Linked DNA regions of Homo sapiens: regions 2 and 3 are each linked to region 1. The links come from fine-mapping of genetic effects on gene expression. A gene starts in region 1. Each other region holds a variant in brackets. All regions are shown on one strand. Distances are between the middles of the regions.

What was found. PIP is the estimated chance that this variant, and not a neighbour inherited with it, causes the effect.
Region 2: its variant is the best candidate, but not a certain one, in a credible set for the expression of TPPP in sun-exposed skin (GTEx, PIP 0.77).
Region 3: its variant is the best candidate, but not a certain one, in a credible set for the expression of TPPP in whole blood (TOPMed, PIP 0.51).

What each region holds. Positions count from the first base shown.
Region 1 is chr5:689,882-697,881 of GRCh38, reverse strand. TPPP (tubulin polymerization promoting protein) reads left to right here and starts at 4,530. Exons shown (of 4, transcript NM_007030.3): 1 at 4,530-4,604. LOC101929898 (a long non-coding RNA gene) reads right to left here and starts at 4,342. Exons shown (of 2, transcript XR_925675.4): 1 at 4,160-4,342; 2 at 1-3,801. RefSeq lists enhancers at 2,730-3,608, 4,522-5,104 and a silencer at 4,278-4,527.
Region 2 is chr5:763,709-771,708 of GRCh38, reverse strand. It overlaps ZDHHC11B (zDHHC palmitoyltransferase 11B (putative)), which reads left to right. Exons shown (of 14, transcript NM_001351303.2): 2 at 2,779-2,874; 3 at 4,185-4,317; 4 at 4,790-5,011. The coding sequence starts at 4,790. It also overlaps the pseudogene BRD9P2. Among named protein-coding and RNA genes, the nearest start is that of ZDHHC11B, 17 kb to the left of the region's middle. The variant G/A (reference allele first, on the strand shown) is at 4,740.
Region 3 is chr5:845,744-853,743 of GRCh38, reverse strand. It overlaps ZDHHC11 (zDHHC palmitoyltransferase 11), which reads left to right and starts at 2,758. Exons shown (of 13, transcript NM_024786.3): 1 at 2,758-3,363; 2 at 5,084-5,262; 3 at 6,129-6,230. The coding sequence starts at 3,142. RefSeq lists enhancers at 2,765-3,414, 3,415-4,066, 6,967-7,116. The variant G/C (reference allele first, on the strand shown) is at 4,254.

The sequences.
Region 1 (8,000 bases):
TTGTTGCGCCTTTGTCTGGTTTTGGTCCGAGGGTGATACTGGCCTCATAGAATGAGTTAGAGAGATATCCCCCCTCTTCGATTTCTTGGAATAGTTTCAGAAGGATTGGTATTAGTTCTTCATATGTTTGGTAGAATCTGGCTGTGAATCCATCTAGTCCTGGGCTGAGTGCAGGGCATCCACACAACAAGTGAAGCCACTTCTGGCAGTGGGGAAAACAGTTACAGGGACAGAAGCTGACCAGGCTCCTTGTGGTCTGCTTGGAGCCATCTCGGCTTTACAGAGCTCATTGCCCACTGCCTCTGAAAGCCACACCCAGGGCTGCCCTTGCCAGAGGGGTGTGTCCTCTCCACTGCAGACACAAGTTCCTCCCTTCTCTGCGGCCCTCCGCTCTGCAACGCCATCCTCTCTCTGGTCCTCCGTGTCTCTGCCAGGCATGGGCTCCTGTCCACATCTTTTCTTCCCAGCACGCTGTCCTGTTGCCGTGTCCCCGCATCTTTCTTCCCTAACATCGGCTGTGGAACTGAGGTAGCGATGGCTGGCGTATTAAGAATGTGCTCCAAGCAGCTCAGCCTAGGGCTGAACACCCCCCATTTGGCTTCCCCTCCTCATCAGCCCCTGACCTGTGGCAACAGTGAAGCCGCAAGGCTCACCTGCCGTTCTCTGGGTCACAGGTGTGTGATAGGGGGGCCAGAGTCGCTCCCTGGCAGCAAGACCCGGAACCTGCACTTTAATTCCATGTTCCACAGCAATTCCACCCCCAGAATAACCAGATGCAATCACAGCCCAAACACACACAGGCACGTGCACACACACAGGTGCAAACACACACACATGCACACAAAGACACACAGGCCCATGCACACACAGGCACACGCAGGCACACAGACACATGCACACACATGCAAACACACAGACACAGGCACGTGGACATACAGGTGCAAACACACATGCACACACAGAGACACAGGCACACGCAGACACACTCATACACACAGAGACACACAAATAGACACACACACAGCTGAACATACACAGCTGAACACATACCAACATACATACACCGGCATGCATACTCACACATACAGGTGCACATTCACACATAGGAATGCACAAACACACGCATGCATGTGCACACTCTCACACTCTCACACACAGGTGCACACACACATCCCGGCAGACATTTTCCCTAAGCTGCCAAGGACCCATGGGAGCTGCTTCAACACCCCCATGAGGCTTCCCAGGCCCCACACCCAGGCAGGCACGTCGTTACTTCACTGACCACCCCCTCTGACCTCATGCACCTAGGCTGTAGCTTGTCCCCAGCCCAGGGCCCACACAGGAGCTGGTTAGGGTTCTCAAGGGGCCCTGACTGCTCACCTGCTGTGGGACACACCCCTACGGGGCCCAAAGAAGCTGCTCAGCCTATAGGCCGTCAAAGGACATTCAGCTGCCAGGGGTGGGTGGACACCTGACAGGTCCAGCTGCAGGACACCTCAGTGCTGGGACCCGGCATCCTCACACTTGGCCTCGGAGGCCTTTTCATGTCTGCTGCTGTCCGCGTGAGTCCATTGCTCCCCCCGCTCCCCGTGCCTCTGTCTTCAGCATGGGGCCTCCCAATGGACCTGGGCTCCTGTCCTGGTCTCCCACTGCAGACCCAGATGGCCCAGCATCTCCCACCATCCCTTCCACCCAGGGCTTCCAGTGCTACCCACCATGCTGTGTCTGCTCTTCCCAACCTCCACTGTCAGCCTGAACCTCTACCCACAAAACCCAACCCCAAACCCAGGCAGGGGTGGGCGCGGGTGCCAGGCAGCAGGGGCTTGTCCCGGAGAGCTGTCCTCCTCCTATGTGACAGCTGCCTGGCCTGGTGCTCCCAACTGCGGACGCAGAACCTGTGCAGGAAGCCGTGGAAACAGCTACAAGCAGGCAGGTGTCCCGGGGAACGCTCCTGGTCACTGACACGGTAACACAGGTGGAGCTGGGAAAAGCATTGGTGCTGGGGTGGTAGTGACCCCCACCCAAGAAAGTCACATTGACCCGGAACCTCAGAGTAAGACCTTACGTTAAAATAGGATCTTTGTAGATGTAATTCGATTAAAGATCTTGAGATTATCCCAGCTTCTCCTGGCGGCCCTTAAATCCAGTGACAGGTGTCCCGATAAGCAAAGGAAGAGACAGACACACTAACTCGGGGGAGGAGGCCCCGTGAGGACAGGGGCAGAGGTGGAGCCATGCGGCCACCACCCAGGACCGCCTGGAGCCACAGAAGCTGGAAGAGGTGGGAACCTCCGGAGCGCACAGGCCTTGATCTCGGACTTCTGGCCTCCTAAGCCGTAAGAGGAAAGCCCTGTTGTTCAACCCATTTGTAGTGATTTTCTAAGGATCCCCAGGAAACATCTTATAACGGGACACTTGGCGTGGATCACATCATTGGCTGTGAGTCGGTTTTCAGTAATTGCAGGGTTAATGGAGGCTGTCCAGGTCTGGCAGTGGAGCAAGAGCTGGGGGCCAGGAAGGGCCACCGGACGGGCAGCCATGGCCAGGTGAAGAGCCTGGAGTCCCGAATCAGGATCCACCTCTCCCTGCTGAGCAAGATCCTGTGCCCCTGTTTCTGGTGATTTTGTAAGTGCTGACTGAACCGACTGTCGCTGGGAAATAACACACCCGTGACCCCAAGCCAAAGTTTCACCCACAGACAAGGAAACAGACTCCATGAACACGCCGACTCCCGACGGTAGAACCGGGGTGCCCACCCCAGCCCCGGTCACTGTGTGTCCTGCGCAGGGGCCAGGGCAGCCCAAGGCTCAGCTCTGTCCTCCTGCCCAGACCTCGCTCAGCCCCCTGGACGCCGCCCCGCGCCCGCTGCCTCTCCTCTCCTCTCCTCCCAAAGGCTCCAGGACCATGTCTGCCTCTGAAGCCTGACGTTACCTCCCACTGCGATTTTATTGTAAACTCACTGCATTTATGTCAAGAGAGTTTGTACAGGTTTTGGAAAATGCACTGAAGAGTCCCCTTGTGCCTATTAGGACGGTAAGAACACACCAAGGAGAGATTATTTCATTATTTCTTTGATGCTGTTAGTAGGATCTACCCGAGGGGGAGGCACTCCGGGCTCCGCGGGACGAGAAGGCAGCCGAGCCCGCACCCGAGCAGGAGGGAAGCAGGAGCCGCAGCGTGGCCGCCGCACAGCTTCGGGGGTCCCCCGACTTCCCAGCTGCGAGTGTGGAATTTCTCAGGAGAACTAGACAGAAGCCCATCTCTGGGCAGCACTGAGTGGAAGGAGAAACCACAGGAGAGGAGAGGAAGTGTGGGGCGCGGGACCACCGTGGGGTGGGTGGGGGCCAAGCCGCCGGGCTGTGAGGCCTCAGCACCCCCTGCCCAGCACCCAGCACCCCAACTTCCCCTTCTGCCTTTGCGGATTCCAGGGCCTGCTGGACACCTGGTGCAGGGACAGAGCCGGGGCTGGGGGAGGAGCTCAGCTGCACTAGAGTCCAGCTGGAAGAGTCCAGCTGAAAGTCACCAGAGGCACCCCTTCCTCCTGGGGGGCTGCGCCTCGGCCTCCTCCAGGGCAGGTGCCCCTATGCCCCTCAAGTCCCAGCACCCAGCACCACAGAACCGCCCTGTCATCTCGGCCCCGGAACCTTGTGGGGAGCCAACTCCTGCGGAGGGCCGGGCAGCCCCGGGCGGAATGAGCCCCCTCCGCAAAGCCTGTCTGGGGAGCGGGGGAGGGGCGGCAGGTGCCCGGAGAAAGGCGAGATTGGAAGAGCGGCCGGGATGGTGGCGCTGCATACGGGCGACCTGCAGGGAGAACGGAAGCTGAGGCCGGGGTCAGGGGTGCGCGCTCCGCTCCTCCACTCCTGCGTGAAGGGCGGCCCACTCCCGAGCAGCTGCGCTGGGCGCCCGGCACGGACCCGTCTCCCTGCTCAGGTCGATCCCCGGCCGCGCTGCCCCCACCTGGAAGCCCAGTCCCCTGGGTGCGCCCCGCCTTGGGGTCCGAGCACCCTCACAGCCCGGCCCTGCCGCTTCCCTGCACCGTCTGCGGCTCCTTAAAGAACTGGGCGCGGTCGGGGCTCGCCCCGCACCGTCCTCGAGGCCCCGCCGCCAACCCACCCCACCCCAGGAGGCCGCGGCCGCGCTCATCCATCCCCCGCCGCACCGTCAACGCGCGTCCTGCGGGGCGGAGAGATCGGGGTCCGGTCGTCCCCGGGGGGCCCCAGAGCCAGGTGAGGGGCCCCGCCGCCCCCTGCCCAGCGGTTCCCACGACCCGCGGGTCGGCCGCGCCCTGCGCTGAGCGGATACCCGGCGGTCCGCGGGGCCTGAGCAGAGTCGGCCTTGTAAGGCAGAGGTCTCGGTGCGCCCGCGCGTCCCCGGGCCGGGTGGGGCGGCGGGGGCGGGGCTGCCAATGAGCGCGCGGGGCGGGACGCTGGGCGGGCGCCGGACGCTGGGGGCCGGGGGCGGGCCCGGGACCGGGCTGGGCGGGGCTGGGCGGTGCTGGGCGGGACGGGCGGGCGCGGGGCGGCGGCTGGAGAGCTCCGCTGAGCACCGGGTCGCGCGCGGCCGAGTCGCGGAGGCGCCTCCGCTGCAGTCGCTGCGTCTCCAAGGTAAGCGGGCGCGGGGCTCGGTCCCGCGGGCGCGGCGCGGGGGGCACCCGGGGGCGGAGACTGGGCCCGTCAGCCCCAGCAGCCACCTGCGCCGCAGCCCCTGCCCCCCGCGCTCCCCCGAGCCCCCTTCCCGGACCGCCCCGCGCGTCCCTGAGCCCCCGGATTGGGATGCCCGGAGTTCGGCGCTGCGGGCTCGGTGCGAGGACGCGACGGGGAGGCTTTGCAAAGGCCGCGAGCGGGGGTCACCGTCGGCCGCGCCAGGGACAGGTCTGTCACCGTCTCCGGGCCCTGTGCCTGGCGCTTTGGCCTTTCTTCGCGGCCACGGACGCCCCTGCAGCCCTTCCCTCCAGACCCTCCCCAGCTCGGGACTCGAACCGTTTCCCTATTCCCAGGCCTAGGGGGCCGCCGGTGTGAGGCGTGGGAAATTAGGGCGTGGAGGGCTGGAATGAAGTCACTGCCCGCAGCAGGTTTTGAGAGATCCCTGGCCACAGAAACGGCCCATCTCAGGGTCCTGACACCACCGCGTCCTGGCAGGTGGGGCTGTCAGACCGCCCCCCGCAGAGCCTCCAGCTGCCCCGGGTCTTGGCTACTGTCCGCGGGCCTGTGGCGATGGAGAGGCGCTGCCGGGACACCTTCCCGCACCCCTGGGAGCAGCGCCCGAAGATCTGAGGAGCCCTTTATTCTGCGGTTTCGGTTACGTAAACGGAGCCGAGGGAGGTGAGAAGCCTGTCCCTCCCGGGCAGTGGCGGGGCTGCTGTTTTGATAAGGGTTTTGGGGGGGCTGTTGTCTTGATGGGGGTTTGGGGGGCTGCTGTTTTGATAGGGGTTGGGAGGCTGCTATTTTGATACGGGGTTGGGGGCTGCTGTTTTGATAGGGGTTTGGGGGGCTGCTGTTTTGATAGGGGGTTGGAGGGCTGCTGTTTTGATAGGGTTGGGGGACTGCTGTTTTGATAGGGGGTTGGGAGCTGCAGTTTTGATAGGGGTTTGGGGGCTGCTGTTTTGATAGGGGGTTGGGAGGCTGCTGTTTTGATAGGTGGTTGGGAGGCTACTGTTTTGATAGGGGGTTGGGGGGCTGCTGTTTTGATAGGGGTTGGGGGCTGCTGTTTTGATAGGTGGTTGGGGGCTGCTGTTTTGATGGGGTCTGGGGGGCTGCTGTTTTGATGTGGGGTTGGGAGGCTGCTGTCTTGATGGGGGCTTAGGGGGGCTGCTGTTTTGATAGGGGGTTGGGGGCTGCTGTTTTGATAGGGGTTGGGAGGCTGCTGTTTTGATAGGGGTTGGGGGGCTGCTGTTTTGATGGGGTCTGGGGGCTGCTGTTTTGATGAGGGGTTGGGGGCTGCTGTTTTGATACGGGTTGGGGGGGCTGTTGTCTTGATGGGGGTTTGGGGGGCTGCTGTTTTGATGGGGGTTTAGGGGGCTGCTGTTTTGATGGGGGTTGAGGGCTGCTGTTTTGATGGGGGTTGAGGGCTGCTGTTTTGATGAGGGTTGGGGGCTGTTTTGATGGGTATTTGGGGGCTGCTGTTTTGATGGGGGTTGGGGGCTGCTGTTTTGATGGGGGTTGGGGGCTATTGTTTTGATGGGGTTTGGGGGGCTGCTGTTTTGATGGGTATTTGGGGGCTGCTGTTTTGATGGGGGTTGGGGGCTGCTGTTTTGATGGGGTTTGGGGGCTGCTGTTTTGATGGGGGTTGGGGGCTATTGTTTTGATGGGGGTTGGGGGGCTGCTGTTTTGATGGGGTGTTGCGTTCCCTCTCAGTGTCACCGCTGATCCACCTGGCATGTTTATTGGCTCTTCTGCTTGCAGGGCCCCTGGGGGACCGATAGAGGACTGGGCCCCTCCGCCCACCCCGGCCACCCCTCCCCGCCTGACTTCTCAGGGGGAGAGGTCTCCCCCCACGCCCAGCCAGCCCCTGCCCCTGGGAGGTGACCCAGCTCCCTGTGGCCTGGGACTAGGAGATGGGGCTGGACCAAGGCCGGGAAGGGGCAGGAAGTGGAGGGGAGTGAGGCAGCTGCAGCCTGATGCCGCCGCCTTGAACTGGGCTCTCGCGCCTGTCAGCCGCTCGGTGCCAGCGCCTCCCCACCACGTGATCCTCGGAGGGCCTGTGGGGGAGGGGCGGGCTCCCGGAGCGGCTGCAGAAGGCGAGCTCCAGGAGGGTGTGTGCGTTTTCCCGGGAGGGGTCTGCAGCTTTCATGGTTTCTAAACGGATCTCTGATTCAGAAAGGCGCCGGCATGAACTCGCTTTGCATCTTCACAAAACATGAAGTCATGGGGATTGGACCGCGTGTGCGTGGAGGAAGCTCCGCTGGTCACTGGCTGCGTTTTAATCTTACAGCTGCGGTTGGTCTATCTTCCCGAATTCCCTGAAGTTGCAATAAATGTTTTAGCGATTATACGAGGTTATAAATGCTCGTTGTGGAAATGAGCATAGAATGCTCACAGAAATGGTCAACAGGGGCTTCCTTTTGACCCCCTACCCTAATTTGCAAGCCTCACACTGGCAGTGGCTGCCCTAGGCCTGGGAATCGGTAAACAGGGTTCGTGCACCGGGCTGGGCAGGGCCCGGAGGGAGGGGCCGCAGGGGGCTTCCGTGGGCACAAAGGCCAAAGCGCCACACGCAGGGCTCAGGAGAACTTCCTGAAGAAAATTAGGATCACCCATCGCAGATGGAGACTGGGGAGCTCTCTGGAGAGTCAGGCAGTCTGTTCCCTCCCAGGCCTGTGGGAGCCACCCCCTGCAGAGGACGCAGAGAATTAAAAGCTTCCTCGGGAGAGGCCGTGCCAGCAGAGAGCCGAGTCTATTTATAGCTGTTGGTGAGACAGGGGGAGTGTGTGAGAGGGATGCCATCTGGGGCTCTTGGGGCCCCCAGGCCAGTGCTGGTCAGCGCCCTGCAGTACCTGGCCCAGCCTGGTGCCCTCAGGCAGAAGCGCCTTCGGGAAAACACTCTGGGTGAGGAGAGTCGCTCAATGCCTCCGCCTGGGCTGGGGGAGCCAGAAGGCTATGCCCAGGAGGGTTGTGGCCGGGTGTCTAGTCCATCTGAGCCCACAAACCCTCAGCCAGGAGCCAGGATCAGGCAGCAGAATCTACACACGCCTAGTTCCTACTGCTCGAGCAAAAGGTGTTTCCTGGGAAGGAAGGGGTGGAGCTGCCTGGGTCAGGCCCAGCCACATCTGGGGCTCAGGCCTTGTCCCCAGCATCCACGAGCCAAACCCCAAGCTGCCCTGCGTGGATCCTCCTCCTAGGGAGACCAGCTTCTTCTTGGTGTGTGTGTGTTTGGGGTTGCCACAGGGCCATAACCCACTGCATCCCCCTGATAAGATCTTCCACCCAGGGCAGCCCCCACCCAGGGCAGCCCCCACCCAGTTGATCCCCCACCCAGATGATCCTCCACCCAGATGATCCCCC
Region 2 (8,000 bases), 74 kb before region 1:
TCTGGTAATTTCTCAGCTGCTCCTCCTGTCCAGCGACCCCTGCTGCAGAGGCCCAGGGGAAACACAGGCCAGGCCTGTGAGAAGCTCCTGTTTCAAAGAAATGTTGTCAGCGATAAAACTGGAAACGGTTCCTGGCTCGACACCTGACCCAGCCTTTCCACCCCCAGGATCCTGCCCCCAGACGGCCCTTCCACCCCCAGGATCCTGCCCCCACCAGGATCCTGCCCCCACGCGGTCCTGCCCCCATGAGACCCTGCCCCCATGCGGCCCAGCCCCCACCAGGATCCTGCCCCTGCATCCTCCGCTGGGTTGGCATCTGCATTTTTGGTGTCTTCCAGGGAAAGGGGTGAGTGGGTGGGGCCTGAGGCCCTTAAGGTCTTCAGTGTAGGGAGTGCCCCTGGATTTTTTTCCGGCTGTTTTGGGGGAATTTGTGGGATCTCAAGTTCAGCAGGGGCCACACTCAGGACCCCCACGATGACAGAGCCACACTTTGGCCATGACTGGCGCTGAGAACTCCAGATCTGAGAGGGCTTCGTGAGTCCCAGGGTTGGGACACGCACATGTGTCCTCGGCACGGACCCTCCCACCGGCTCTTGTGTCTGTGGGCAGAGGCCATGTTCAGCTCTCAGTGCAGTGCTGACGGCCCACCTGGTGTCCAGGCCCCTTTGGGAAGCAGCTTTCATGCCCTGAGTCCAGCACCTCAGCCTTGAGTCCTTCAGGGCCTGACTGGGTCTTACCGAAGCCCATGCATGGTAGGGAGGTGGCCTCGGCAGCCCTGCCCTGTGGCGTAGCCCTGCGTCCCCAAGCCCTGCCTGGGTGGCACCCCTCAATCTTAGCCCCACAGCCCAGCCACCTGCTCTGGGGGCGGGCGCCTTACCAAGTCCAGAGGGCATCCCTGCACCCTGACACCGGTGCCCCCAGCACTGCCTCAGCCCTGCACACTGGCAGTCCCCTCCCCTGGCTGGGGCCAGGCCCAGGGCTCCTGGGAAGAGCATCCTGAGGCACCCCCAGGGCCACCACACACCCTCCCCAGCCTAAAGCTCCATCTAAGGTCAGAGGCTCTGCAGTGGGGAGGGAGCGGCTGTCGCACGACTGCTGTGGACCTTCCCAGAGGAAGGCAGCACGTCACAGACCCTGGGGAGTGCGTGATCCCGAGGTGTCCTCCAGAGCTGCAGAGCGGGCGTCCACAGGAGGGACAGTGGAACTGCGGCGGGGAGGGGACCCGGAATAGGCTCTGATGCTGCCAGTCACACACTGAGCCTCCTAGGCCTGGAGCCCCTGGCACCCAGCTCAGCTCCCACCCTGGGCTCTGCGTGCTGCTGGCTTTATTTGGCTTAGGGGGTCCTTGGCCCAATGATGGCAGTGGGCAAGGCCTCGCTTGGCTCCACTCTGCCCGGGGCTGGACATGCGTGCCTGCGGGGCAGCTGGCTCCAAGGGTCTGAGGGGCCTCACGCCCAGCCCCAGGAGGGCCTGCCCATCTCAGCCCTCGCCACGTCCTGGTGCTCATTGGTATGGCGGGGTTTCCTGGGCTGCACCCGGCTCAGCTGGGACATGGCCCGGGTGACACCTTTCTCCTCTCCTTCCTCCATAGCAACATGGCTGACAAGGCCAAGCCTGCCAAAGCTGCCAACAGGACGCCCCCCAAGTCCCCGGGGGACCCCTCGAAGGACTGGGCAGCCAAGAAGCTGTCGCTGGAGTTGGAGGACATGTGCACCGAGTGGTGTGGACGGCCGTCTCGCGGGGCTGTGGTGCTGGTCAGACCTCGGTCAGGGCTCCTTGGGAGCAGCGGGACTCGAGCCACGTTCCTGAAAAGCTGCCGAGAGGCCTTTAAGGCCAAACCTCACTAGCATCAGGAAGGGTTCACATCCCGAGCTCAGTCTTCAGCAAAGACCAGAGTGCTGGCCCACCCTGCTCCTTGAATCTGGAAAGCAGTCTTAGAAAAAGAAGAGCTGTTAGATGATTATGTCCAGGACAGTGTTGAAGGATGGCGCGCACTAGGCCTGTCCAGCCCGTCAGGGGCACTTTGTTGGCCTGGAAGTAATTAAGAGGCTTGTCCTTTGAACGAAAGTGTGATCACTTGGGTTTGAAACGCACTCGCGGGCTCGCGTGAGGAACGTGCAGCCTGGCACGGGTTGCCTCTAGATTCCTGCTTCCCTCGCTCTCACCCGCATGCCTGCTGGTGGTCTTTCACCCAGCTCCACCATGCCAGCGTGGTTTTCTCCAGTGTGTGAAGGATAGAAACGGGCTGATCTATATAATCTTCAGCTTATTTTCCTAAAGAGGATGGACCGTTGATCCATATTTAGCTTATGAGAGTGTTGAGACCGAGGCAGCGGTTGGGAACTGAGGAACTCCTGCTCTGATCCCATGAGTGGTGTGTGGGTGGTGACTTGAGCATGGCAGACATGCTGTCAGATGCACGCGCTCCAGGTACACGCCACCGTTTCGCTGTTAGAACACGCAGGACAAGATTTCTTCTTGGAGTTGTTGAGTGATCCATTTGAAAATGTTCTCAAAGTATTGCTGGTGTGGTGGCCAAAGATGTGGTATTTTTTATTGTGTTGACTTTGGGGTGATAAAGAAATGAAATTGAAATGCAGTTAGTTTTGAGAATGGTAGTTGGCTTTTGCAAATTTGTTTTCAGGTGATCATTATAAAATCCCCCCACCCGCACCAATCACATCCACTGTGATGTGGAGAAAGGGCTCATGGCACTGCACTGGGGCACCGCGTTGGGGTCACACCTGCCACTCACGGCCCGCCATGTCCGTGTTGCAGAGGAGGAGACCCACCCGGTGGACTTGAGCTCGCTCTCCAGTAAGCTACTCCCAGGCTTCACCACGCTGGGCTTCAAAGACGAGAGAAGAAACAAAGGTAAATCCATAGTCCCGTCCCAGGAGCCAGCCGGAGCAGGGAAGGTGGCAGGGGTTTAGTGGAGTGATGGCAAATGCTGCTGATTCGTACTTCAGAGTTTCCTCACTGTACCTGGATTCATGTTTTCACATGGGTAAGATTGAGATCAGTTACAGTGACAGGAATGAAACTCGTGTTGGATGGGGACACACACAGCGGGCACCTTGGTTGCATCACTGGACTTCACCTTGGTCAGTGTTTTGGGGTCCTTGTGTTTCTGTCCCTGTCGCATTACAGAACATCCCTTCAGGGGTCAGAATGTGTGGCCCCTGGGCCTTGGGTCTGGCCTGTGTGTTCTCTCCATCTGCACTGCTGCCTCCTGGCTGCGCTGCTGCTGGGACCTCCTGCATGGCCCCACCCTCCACTTCTCCACCTCTGCTGGGTCCCTCCCATGCAGACAGCTGCATGGACACTGCTCCTGCCGGCCCTTTCTGCCTCAGCCACTCACACCATCTGCTAATGGGACAGCTCACTCTTCCCTCCAAACCATGGCCTTGGCTCAAGAGCTTCCTTGTTTCTGGAATGTTCTTTCCTCCAGCTCCAGGTGTTGAAATTCTGCCTGGTCTGGGTCTCCTGTTGAAGGACGCCCTCCACTGGGAAGGATCCTCTTGCCTTCACCACTTGTCTTCACCAGCCCCTGCTCCCCTCTTCCTCTTGGGGCTGTTGTGGTTGTTGATACTTTTTTTTTGTTGTGTTTGACACACATCTTCTTCTCACCCTCTAACACAGTTCTCAACCACAGCACTTTTGTCCCTGGAGATGTTGGCAGTGTCCAGAGGCGTGTTGATGGTCCCACTGGGGTTGGGGGTGCTGCTGGCACCAGATGGTAGGGAGATGCCAGGGGTGCTGCTCCACACCCTATGGGACACTGCACAGTACACCTGGCCTGTGTCCCCCACAGCGAGAGCTGGCCCTGGGCAGGCGTGGTCCCTGCGGTGTGTGTTGGTTGGGATCCTCCACAGTGACAGACGGTGCGCTCTGCCCACGTTTCCACACAGCTCTTTTGCTTGTGGAGCTCACCCCTTTGCAGAGAGCTCATTTCCCTGCGGTCTTTGGCCTGCAGAAGTAAAATGAGGGGTGGTGAATTACACCCCTGCTGGTTACACATGGAAAACTCAGGAGTGAGAATTTTGTGGAGAGCAAGAGAGGTGAGACTGGGGTGCTGGCTGCCAGCCAGGCGGTCCCTCAGCCCCTGGAGAAGCGGGGTGGGGCCTGCACACCGAGTCCTTCCAGTGAGTCCAGTGATGCTCTCTTTCTCCTCTTCCTCCCAGTCACCTTTCTCTCCAGTGCCACTACTGCGCTTTCGATGCAGAATAATTCAGCATTTGGCGACTTGAAGTCGGACGAGTTGGAGCTGCTCTACTCAGCCTACGGAGATGAGACAGGCGTGCAGTGTGCGCCGAGGCAGGTGTTGGCCCCGGGGAGCCCTTGGCTGCTGTCCAGCTTCAGCTGCGCCCTGGTGTGGGACCCGGAGCCCCACATGTGTGTGGGTGGGGAGAGGGCCATCCCGCAGCCGTCCAGATGGCAGCTCAGGTCTTCCCGTTGCTTTCAGTCATCCACCCAGGTCTGCCACAGGCCAGGTCCTCTGCCCAGGGTCCTCCACACCCTGGAGAGCCATTTTCTGTTGCCACTCGGCTCTGGCCAGGGTCAGATTCTGCAGCATGTCTGTTCATTCCCCTGGACAGGGCCCTGCACCGACTCCAGCCCAACCCCTGCTCCCTCTGCGGGGAACGTGGCCCCAGGCAATGCTGGGCCATTGGCTGTCAGTGCTGGTCCTGGGGGCCATGTTCCCAGTCCCCGTGGTCTCCCTGACAGTGGGTGGGGCC[G/A]GCCCTCCCCGGAGCTGATGGCGCAGGTCCTCCCCTTCTGTGTCCTGCAGATGGACACCCGCTCCGGGAGCCAGTGTTCCGTCACCCCAGAAGCCATACGCAACAATGAAGAGCTGGTCTTGCCGCCCCGCATCTCCAGAGTGAACGGCTGGTCGTTACCCCTGCACTACTTCCGGGTGGTGACTTGGGCTGTCTTCGTTGGCCTTTCCTTGGCCACCTTCAGGATCTTCATTCCCCTCCTGCCTCACTCGTGGAAATACATCGCCTATGTGGTATCCTTTTCATCGTGGCATGGTCTAAGCGGGAGGGGTTCCTGGAGGACCCTGCGATGGACCTGGCTGTGGGGTCTGGGCCATGGCTGCCCGGTGGCACCAGTCACCTGTCCTGGGCCAGACTATGTCCCCCGAGCCTGCAGGTGGGCCCAGTGGCCATTCGTGCTCTGTGCAGCCCCTGCTCAGGGTCAGGACAGCTGCTGACCCCACATCAGGCCATTCCTGCGTGGCCCATCGTCGGGTGGACAGAGCAGCCACTGACCCTATGTCAGACCGCTCCCACATGGCTCAGGGTCAGGTTGGACAGGGCAGCCGCTGACCCCATGTCAGGCCGTCTGCTCCCATCTCCCAGCAGGTGGGGGACCTGGTTCTGCTCCCATCTTCCAGCGGCAGGGGTCCCGGGTCTGCTCCCGTCTCCCAAAGAGGGGGAAGCCCGTGTCTGCTCCTGTCTCCCAGTGGGTAGGGGACCTGCATCTGCTCTCACCTCCCATCAGGCGGGGACTCATGTCTGCTCCCATCATCTTCCAGCGGGTGGGAGCCTGTGTCTGCTCGCATCTCCCAGGGTGCATGTCCATGGGGCATGTGGGCTCTGCACTACCTCCAGCTGACCATGGCATTCAGTTGAGAAACCCCAGGCCCCCTAGGGTCACTGAGACATGGATGTGTGGGGACAAAGGGGCCTGGGGAACAGTTGGCCTGCGTTCGGTGCCTTGGGGCACTGGAACCATATTTCTGAAAGTAGGATGTGTTATTTCTCACTAGAGCCTTCCTCAGTGGGGAAGTGGTGACACTGTGTCCGGAACTGGTGGGTTCTTGGTCTCACCAACTTCAAGAATGAAGCCGCAGACCCTCGCGGTGAGTGTTACAGTTCTTAAAGGCGGCGTGTCTGGAGTTTGTTCCTTCTGATGTTTGGATGTGTTCAGAATTTCTTCCTTCTGGTGGTTTGGGGTATCCCTGGTTCAGGAATGAAGCTGCAGACCTTCACTGCGAGTGTTAGAGCTCATAAAGGCAGTGCGGAGCCAAAGAGTGAGCAGCAGCAAGATGTATTGCAAAGAGCAAAAGAACAAAACTTCCACAATGTGGAAGAGAACCCAAGCAGTTTGCTGCTACTGGCTTGAGCAGCCTGCTTTTATTCCCTTATCTGGCCCCACCCACATCCTGCTGATTGGTTCATTTTACAGAGAGCTGATTGGTCTGTTTTACAGAGAGCTGATTGGTCCGTTTTGACAGGGTGCTGATTGGTGTGTTTACAACCCCTAAGCTAGACACAAAAGTTCTCCAAGTCCCCACAGAGCACTGATTGGTGCATTTACAAACCTTGAGCTAGACACAGAGTGCTGATTGGTGTATTTACAATCCCTTAGCTAGACATAAAGATTCTCCAAGTCCCCACCAGATTAGCTAGATACAGAGTGCTGATTGGTGCATTTACAAACCTCGAGCTAGACATAGGGTGCTGATTGGTGTATTTACAATCCCTTAGCTAGACATAAAGATTCTCCAAGTCCCCACCAGATTAGCTAGATACAGAGTGCTGATTGGTGCATTTACAAACTTCGAGCTAGACATAGGGTGCTGATTGGTGTATTTACAGTCCCTTAGCTAGACATAAAGGTTCTCCAAGTCCCCACCAGATTAGCTAGATACAGAGTGCTGATTGGTGCATTTACAAACTTCGAGCTAGACATAGGGTGCTGATTGGTGTATTTACAGTCCCTTAGCTAGACATAAAGGTTCTCCAAGTCCCCACCAGATTAGCTAGATACAGAGTGCTGATTGGTGCATTTACAAACTTCGAGCTAGACATAGGGTGCTGATTGGTGTATTTACAGTCCCTTAGCTAGACATAAAGGTTCTCCAAGTCCCCACTAGACTCAGGAGCCCAGCTGGCTTCACCTAGTGGCTCCCACACCGGGGGCAGGTGGAGCTGCCTGCCAGTCCCGTGCCATGTGCCCGCACTCCTCAGCCCTTGGGTGGTGGATGGGACCGGGTGCCGCAGAGCAGGGGACGGTGCTCACTGGGGAGGCTCGGGCTGCGCAGGAGCCCATGGCAGCGGGGAGGCTCAGGCATGGCGGGCTGCAGGTCCTGAGCCCTGCCCCGCAGGGAGGCAGCTGAGGCCCAGTGAGAATTGAGCACAGCTACAGCAGACCAGCACTCCTGGGGGACCTGGCGCACCCTCCACAGCTGCTGGCCTAGGTGCTAAGCCCCTCACTGCCCGGGGCCGGCAGTGCCGGCCGGCTGCTCTGAGTGCAGGGCCCGCTGAGCCCATGCCCACCCCGAACTAGTGCTGGGTTCCCGCCTGTGCCTCTCCCTTCATACCTCCCCACAAGCCGAGGGAGCCGGCTCTGGCCTCGGCCAGCCCAGAGAGGGACTCCCACAGTGCAGCAGTGGGCTGAAGGGCCCCTCGAGTGTGGCCAGAGTGGGCACCGAGGCCGAGGAGGTGCCGAGAGTGAGCGAGGGCTGCCAGGGCTGCCAGCGTGCTGTCACCTCTCAACACCACTGCGTGGTCCTTGGGCTGGGCCATCCCGGGCAAGTCTCTGGTAAATGGTGAGCGTGGTGTGTATCGCTGTGGTGCAGGCAGGGAGGTGTAGGGGCTGGATGCAGAGTGAGCAGGTGCCATGAGGACAGCAGCCTGCCAGCCTGAGTGCCTCAGCCATGGGCAAGGCCATGTCTCTCTTTCCTGAAACTTGTTCCTGTGGCGTCTTTCAGTTTATAGAGGTAGAGAGTACAGTCAAGCGGACCCGCAGGTGCCAGTCACCTGCTTCAACAGTGAAGCTTTTGCTAACCTTGTTTTATATCTCACATGCATGTGTATCCGAGTAACCTTTAAAAATCTCGGACATCGGGAAATTTCACCTGTAAATGCTCCAGTTTGTGTCTAACAAACTTTTATTTTTATAACACCATGCTTTATCTCACTTAAAAATATCTCACTTAAAAATTATATAGCCATTTCTTAACATCCTGTATTCGTTCTTATCCATGTGGC
Region 3 (8,000 bases), 160 kb before region 1:
TGTCTCCCCAGCTCACTGTCCTCTGTGGGGTCTGTCTCCCTGGCTCACTGTCCTACATGGGGTCTGTCCCCGTGGCTCGCTGTCCTCTGTGGGGTCTGTCCCCCTGGCTTGCTGTCCTCTGTGGGGTCTGTCCCCGTGGCTTGCTGTCCACTGTGGGGTCTGTCCCCCGGGCTTGCTGTCCTCTGTGGGGTCTGTCCCCGCTGCTCACTGTCCTCTGTGGGATCTGTCTCCCCAGCTCGCTGTCCTCTGTGGGGTCTGTGCTCCTCGCTCGCTGTCCTCTGTGGGGTCTGTGCCCCCTGGCTCACTGTCCTCTGTGGGGTCTGTCCCCGCTGCTCACTGTCCTCTGTGGGGTCTGTCCCCCTGGCTCGCTGTCCTCCGTGGGGTCTGTACCCCCGACTCGCTGTCCTCTGCGGGGTCTGTGCCCGACTCGCTGTCCTCGGTGGGGTCTATCCCTGCTGCTCACTGTCCTCTGTGGGGTCTGTGCCCGCTGCTCACTGTCCTCCGTGGGGTCCGTGCCCCCCGGCTCGCTGTCCTCTGTGGAGTCTCTGCCCCCTGGCTCGCTGTCCTCTGTGGGGTCTGTCTCCCTGGCTCGCTGTCCTCCGTGGGGTCTGTCCCCGCTGCTAATTGTCCTCCGTGGGGCCTGTGTCCCCTGGCTCGCTGTCCTCCATGGGGTCTGTCCACCTGGCTCGCTGTCCTCCGTGGGGTCTGTGCCCGCTGCTCGCTGTCCTCCATGGGGTCTGTCCCCCTGGCTCGCTGTCCTCCGTGGGGTCTTTCCCTGCTGCTTGCTGTCCTGCGTGGGGTCTGTCCCCTCGGCTCGCTGTCCTCCGCGGGGTCTGTCCCCGCTGCTCACTGTCCTCCGTGGGGTCTGTCCCCGCTGCTCGCTGTCCTCCGTGTGGTCTGTACCCCCGGCTCGCTGTCCTCCGTGGGGTCTGTCCCCGCTGCTTGCTGTCCTCCGTGGGGTCTCTTCCCCCGGCTCGCTGTCCTCCATGGGGTCTGTCCCCCGGTTTGCTGTCCTCTGTGGGGTCTGTCCCCGCTGCTCGCTGTCCTCCGTGTGGTCTGTCCCCCCGGCTCGCTGTCCTCCGTGGGGTCTGTCCCCCTTGCTCACTGTCCTCTGTGGAGTCTGTACCTCCAGCTTACTGTCCTCCGTGGCGTCTGTCCCCGCTGCTCATTGTCCTCCGTGGGGTCTGTCCCCCTGGCTCACTGTCCTCTGTGGAGTCTGTCCCCGCTGCTCGTTGTCCTCTGTGGGGTCTGTCTCCCTGGCTTGCTCACATTTTCTCTAATTTGGATGTATTACTTTTTCCAATCATCCTTTCCAGCTCTTGGTGCACAGTTTCGACCTGAAGTCTTCAGTCTTCTCAAAGTTCTTCAGTGTTTTCTTTTTTCTCTCACAGACTCTCCACCTTTCTGTTCTGAAATCCTGACAGATGAACGTGTTGTCTCCAGGCTCAAGGCTCAAGGCCGCTGAGCGATTCCCCTCTTCTCCTCTCTAAGATCTGTGGTCCTTCCTGGATTTGATATTCCAGGTTTTACCAATGTGACTTGGCGACATCATTTCTGTTTGTTGGCACTTTCATTTGGGTTTTGTTTTTAACTGGGAATTGTGTTTTTAATGTACAGGGTTGTCTTTCTGTGTTTCTATTTCCTTCCTTGGTAACTTTGACTTTTCTTTCTTTCTTTTTTTTTTTTTTGAGATGGAGTCTCCCTCTGTTGCCCAGGCTGGAATGCAGTGGTGCAATCTTGGCTCACTGCAGCCTCGACCTCCCAGGTTCAAACGATTCTCATGCCTCAGCCTCCCGAGTAGCTGGGATTAGAGGCATGTGCCACCATGCCCTGCTAATCTTTGTATTTTTAGTAGAGACAGGGTTTCGCCGTGTTGCCCAGGCTGGTCTGGAACTCCTGACCTCAGGTGATAGGCACGCCTCGGCTTCCCACAGTGCTGGGATTACAGGCGTGAGCCCCCGCGCCCGGCCAAAGAACCATGGTCCTGTTTCATAACTGTGAGTCTCTCGGGTCTCCCAGAGACATTCTTGTGTGACTCAAGCCCCAGGGTCCTGTGGCCCCGCATCCGCCTGGTGTCACATTTAGAGGACCAGGGAGGAGCCACCAAAGGCAGCGCAGAGCCACTGTATCATGGACGTTCACGACTGCAAGAACGAAGAATTGTTAACTATTTCTCAATGTCTCTCTTCTCAAAGAAATACATTTAATATCAACTTCATTTTCTGAAGGTTTTTTCCCAAAGAGACAACAAGGACTTTGAGCGAGGCATAACGTGGCGAAGCTTCCTAACCCTCCTCTGTAGAGACCGCCCAGCCCCTCAAGATCAACCCCCCACCCCGTAGCGGCCGTTGAGTGTCTTTCACTGCCGCTCTGTGACACCACGTCCCTCCCACCCCTGCCGCCCTCCCCACCTGACTGGCCAGGAGCAGCCGCAGCGTGTTCAGAACCTCCCAGCCACTGTCCACCCGGGCGGAGACCCCAGCCCCGCGTGGCTGGACGGGCTTCCCTGTCCTGTGGAAGGGGAGACACACAGGACCCTGTGAAGTGAGCTCTCGGGTCCTGCTCCTCTGGGAAGCTCAGAGAAGCCTCTCAGGGAGGATCTGGCAGGTTTCAGTGTTGCACCAGTGAGTAACGGCTCACGAGCTCTTCAGGCATTGCCTCAGTTTCTCACAGGCGCAGCCCTCTGCTCAGTGTGGCCTCTTTCTGACGTGGGTTTTCTTCTTGCACCTGGGGAGTCCTGGGTGGGCCTGTGTATTCGTGAACGGGTTGTGGGACCTGTCGCTGTGTGGGGGCTGTCGAGCACTCCCCAGAACGTAACAAATCCTCAGGGGAACTGATGGGCGGTCGCGCGGGCACTGGGTCCTCCACACCCTGGAGAGCCGTTTTCCGTTGCCACTCGGCTCTGGCCGGGGTCACATTCTGCAGCATGTCTGTTCATTCCCCTGGGCGGGGCCCTGCACCGACTCCAGCCCAGCCCCTGCTCCCTCTGCGGGGAACGTGGCCCCAGGCAGTGCTGGGCCATTGGCTGTCAGTGCTGGTCCTGGCGGCTGCATTCCCAGTCCCCTTGGTCTCTGTGACAGTGGGCGGGGCCGGCCCTCCCAGGATCTGACGGCGCAGGTCCTCCCCTTCTGTGTCCTGCAGATGGACACCCGCTCCGGGAGCCAGTGTTCCGTCACCCCAGAAGCCATACTCAATAATGAAAAGCTGGTCTTGCCGCCCCGCATCTCCAGAGTGAACGGCTGGTCGTTACCCCTGCACTACTTCCAGGTGGTGACCTGGGCTGTCTTCGTGGGCCTTTCCTCGGCCACCTTCGGGATCTTCATTCCCTTCCTGCCTCACGCGTGGAAATACATTGCCTACGTGGTATCCTTTTCATCGTGGCATGGTCTAAGCGGGAGGGGTTCCTGGAGGAACTTGCGATGGACCTGGCTGTGGGGTCTGGGCCATGGCTGCCCGGTGGCACCAGTCACCTGCCCTGGGCCAGACTATGTCCCCTGAGCCTGCAGGTGGGCCCAGTGGCCACTCATGCTCTGTGCAGCCCCTGCTTAGGGTCAGGACAGGACAGCGTTGGCTGAGGGGGCTCCGGAGAGGGAATCTGTCAGGAGGGACAGCAGCCCCCTGGCGTGGCGCAGGACCCGCCCTGCTGGCAGCCTTCCGCTAAAATCCCTGCGCAGCATTTTGCACATGGCCAGCACCTTTCTCCTTGCCCCTGGTGCCAAGGAGGAACAGCGCCATGCCCCGCAGGTCGGCAGCCTGCGTTTCCATGCCAAGCTTAGGCCACACTGCGAGGGCCTCTGGGCTGCCCTGCGGAGATGGCTGTCAACCCTGAACTCCTGGCTAGAAGGCGGTCCAGGGGCCAGGCAGGGTGACTGGAGGGCCCCGCACTCCACCCCTTCTATTTGGTTGCCATGGAGAGTCTGTGTTTGTCCCAGGGTGAGAGGAGGAGGGAGCCAGGATCTGAGGGCGGGAGCTGACGTCCCAGGCACGGGGAGCCCAGCTTCTCCTGGCTCCAGGGGACAAGGATCCTCTCCCCAGTGCCCCCGCAGCCAGGCTCTGAGCCCAGAGGGCCCAAGAAAGAGGCCCAGGGTCCCTGAGTGAGTCTGGGGTCCTCGAGAGAGTCTGGAGTCCCCGAGAGAGTCCGGAGGGGCCCTGAGGGAGTCTGAGGGGGGTTTCCCTGAGCTATTCTCGGGGAGAGGGTCCCTGAGTGAGCTGTCTGGGGTCTACAGGGAGCGGGTAGGTTGTGCAGCTCCCTC[G/C]CTCCTCCCCCTGCTCCTCCTGTCTGAGGCTGTCTTCTCTCCCAGTGCTCAGGGGTCTCTGGTATGAAAGAACCCAGGCTCCTCCAGGGCCTTTGGGGCTGCATCCGGCTGTGTTTATACCTGGGATGTCCCTCCTGTGGCCCTGCTCTGTCCCTCAAGCTGTAAAGGGTTTTGGGGTCACTGTGCTTGGCTGGGCTGACTGAGCCTCTGGGGGTGCGGTACATTCTGTGGGGGATTTGCCCTGTGTCCAACAGGGATGAACCAAAAGGGGCACGGGGGCAGCCTTCCCGGTCCCCGACTGGCACAGGGCTGTGTATGCAGGGCCAATGGGTAGCCTCATCTTCTCTAGGCCTGGGTAAGCAGGGCTGTGTGTGCAGGGCCGACGGGTGGACTCATCTCCTCTAGATCTGGGTGAGCAGGGCTGTGTGTGCAGGGCCATGTGTGAAGGGCCGGGTGTATAGGGCCGTGTGTGCAAGACTGGATGAGCAGGGCCATGTGAGCAGGGCCGGGCATGGGTGAGCTGGGCTCGGGTGAGCAGGGCTGGGTGTGCAGGGCTGGCTGTGCAGGGCTGGCTGTGCAGGGCTGGGTGTGCAGGCCCAGGTGAGCACGCCCAGGTGAGCAGGGCCAGGCGAACAGGGCTCAGTTGTGCAGGGCTGGGTGTGCAGGGCTGTGTGAGCAGGGCCAGGCCTGGGTGAGCTGGGCTCACGTGTGCAGGGCTGGGTGAGCAGGGCTGACCAGCGGCCACGCCTCTTCTGGGCCCTTGGGCCTCACGGGGACGCCTCGTGCCAGGCTGACCAGGCCCTGGGCCAGGTTCTTCCTTGACATGCCAGGTGACCGGGGGGATCTTCTCGTTCCACCTCGTCGTCCACCTGATCGCGTCCTGCATCGACCCGGCCGACTCCAATGTCAGACTCATGAAGAACTATTCTCAGCCCATGCCCCTCTTCGACAGATCAAAACATGCACACGTGATCCAGAATCAGTTCTGCCACCTGTGCAAGGTCACCGTGTGAGTGCCCGCCCTCGCCGAGGCCCCAAGGTGTCAGGGTCACCTCCAGGGTCCTGGTGCTCAGGTCACTGCTGGCCCCTCAGGGCCCGTGCCATGGCCGCAGCTGATGCTAGTGGAGCTTCCAGGGCCCGGCCCTGTGGCTGCGGGTGGATCGCCCCTCATCTCGCTGTGAACCGGGCGCGGTGCCGGGCCGCCCCAACTCCTCCGCAGGCAGGGCTGAGACTGGAGGGCTGGGTCTGTCACCTGCAGGTGACCCGCTGCTCCCCTGGAATGAAACACAGCAGCACTCAGGCATGTTTGGTCCTCAGTGGATTTTGTGCACGAGGTCCCTCCCCTGAGGGCCCAGGGCAAGAGAGCACTGTCTTTCTTGGGGAGTTTCAAGACAAGCCCCTAGGAAAGTGGGAGGTAAGGGTTCCAGTGTCTCCAGGGGCCCTGGAGGCCTCTGTGATGGCCTAGGGGTTGGCTACAGGGCTGTTGTCAGCTGCAAGGGAGGCCCTGTAGGCACAGGTGGGATCCAAGCCCCCGGCCTCAACTCCTGGAACCATGGGGCAGGCGCGGCCTCCTCCAGGGCCATGGCCCAGAGTGAGGCTGGTGTAGGACGGCTGGCGGGGGGTCTATGCTCAGGGCGGCCAAAGACACAGCTCCTCCTGCTCTGTGGCTACCTCTGCCCACAGCTGCCCTGCTTCTCCTCCTCCCCACAGGCCTCAACACCCTCCCCCAGCCTCCCATTCCCTGCTGGACGCCCTCTCCCCAGGCCGCACAGGGCTGGTTCCTCCGAGGCACCTGGCTTCCAGTGATGGACCTCTGGCCCTGCCCCAACCTGCGCACTTGGGGCCTGACAGGCGTTCCCCGATTCATCCCTCCAGGAACAAGAAAACCAAACACTGCATTTCCTGCAATAAGTGTGTGTCCGGCTTCGACCACCACTGCAAATGGATCAACAACTGCGTGGGAAGCCGGAATTATTGGTGAGGGGCACAGAGGGGATGGCCGGCACGGGCCAGGCTTGGGGGAATTTGGAAGGGAGGGGTCTGTGGGCAGGGGTCATCGTGTTGAAAGGGTGGAGGGTCCTCTTGGGGCCGCGTCCCTGTCCTGATGTGGTGGCGCTTGGTGCCTGCGTGCCCCGGCCTCCTGTCTGGCTCTGGGGCTGTGGTGCAGCCGTCCCTGGACAAGCTCATCCGCATAGAGTAAGTCCCTGGAGGCCCCCCGGGGGCACTTGCGGGGCCACGCTGGCTGAGGCCTCCTGACCACGCTGTCCTGGGCTGGGCTGCCTTCTCTCCACCCAGGCTGAGGCTCATCCAGCACAAGGGTGGGGCCACGGAAGGGCAGTGGGCACCCAGCGCAGATGGGCGAGAGGTGTTTCCCCTGAGCATGGTCGAGGCTCACAGATGAGAGGTGTTTCCCTGAGCACGGTGGAGGCTCATAGACGAGAGGTGTTTCCCCTGAGCACGGTGGAGATGCAAGGAAGAGAGATGTTTCCCTGAGCACGGTGGAGGCTTACAGATGAGAGGTGTTTCCACTGAGCATGGTGGAGGCTCACAGGCGAGAGGTCTTTCCCCTGAGCACGGTGGAGGCGCAAGGATGAGAGGTGTTTCCACTGAGGATGGTGGAGGTGCAAGAACGAGAGGTGTTTCCCCTGAGCACGGTGGAGGCTCACAGATGAGACGTGTTTCCCCTGAGCACGGTGGAGGCTCATAGACGAGAGGTGTTTCCCCTGAGCACGGTGGAGGCTCAAGAACGAGAGGTGTTTCCCCTGAGCATGGTGGAGGCTCAAGGACGAGAGGTGTTTCCCCTGAGCATGGTGGAGGCTCACAGGCGAGAGGTATTTCCCCTGAGCACGGTGGAGGCGCAAGGATGAGAGGTGTTTCCACTGAGGATGGTGGAGGTGCAAGAACGAGAGGTGTTTCCCCTGAGCACGGTGGAGACTCACAGATGAGACGTGTTTCCCCTGAGCACGGTGGAGGCTCAAGAACGAGAGGTTGTTTCCCCTGAGCACGGTGGAGGCTCATAGATGAGAGGTGTTTCCCCTGAGCACAGTGGAGGATCCAGGGACTCTCAAGGCCCCGTGTGCTGAGCCCCGGCTGTCTGCAGCACTGTATTGTGAAGATCACCAGGGAAAAGAACCACGCCTGCTCCCCAGCTACTCTGTGCTGACCTGAAAGAGGCCTTGGTGTGCGTGGGAGTGGGGACCAACGTTGCCTGGTGTCACAGGACGCACCGGGCGGTCCCTGCCCTGCCTCCCTGCCATCCCGTCTGGAGCACAGCATGTGTCCAGAGAGGCTGAGCAGCCCGGCAGGGACAGAGAGGTTGCATGACCGCACAGCGAGTCCAGAGGCTGCGTGAGATGGTAGGGGCCGGGGAGACCCACCGGCCTCCTCCCCTGGAGAAGAGCAGCTCCACGATGGCCAAGGTGGGGCCAGCTCCTCTGGCTCATGCTAGCCCCAGGTGCCACTTCCTTCTGGACTCATTCTGCTCTGGTGCCTCGAGCTGGCTCAATCTGGCGGGTCCTGGTGGGGAAGGTGAGGGGGTGAGGGCCCACAGGCAGGTGGCAAGGAGAGGGTCTGCCTTCCTCAGGAGGGGTGCTGGAGAGGGACCACGTGGGTGCCAAGTGTAGACACCGCCTGGGTGTGGGAAAGGGGCATCAGGAGAGCAGGGCCGGGGTCATGGGCGCCCTCAGCTCCAGGCAGCAGCCAACGCCGGCATCTGTGCCAACCTCGCTTCTGTCCCTTCATCCGCCA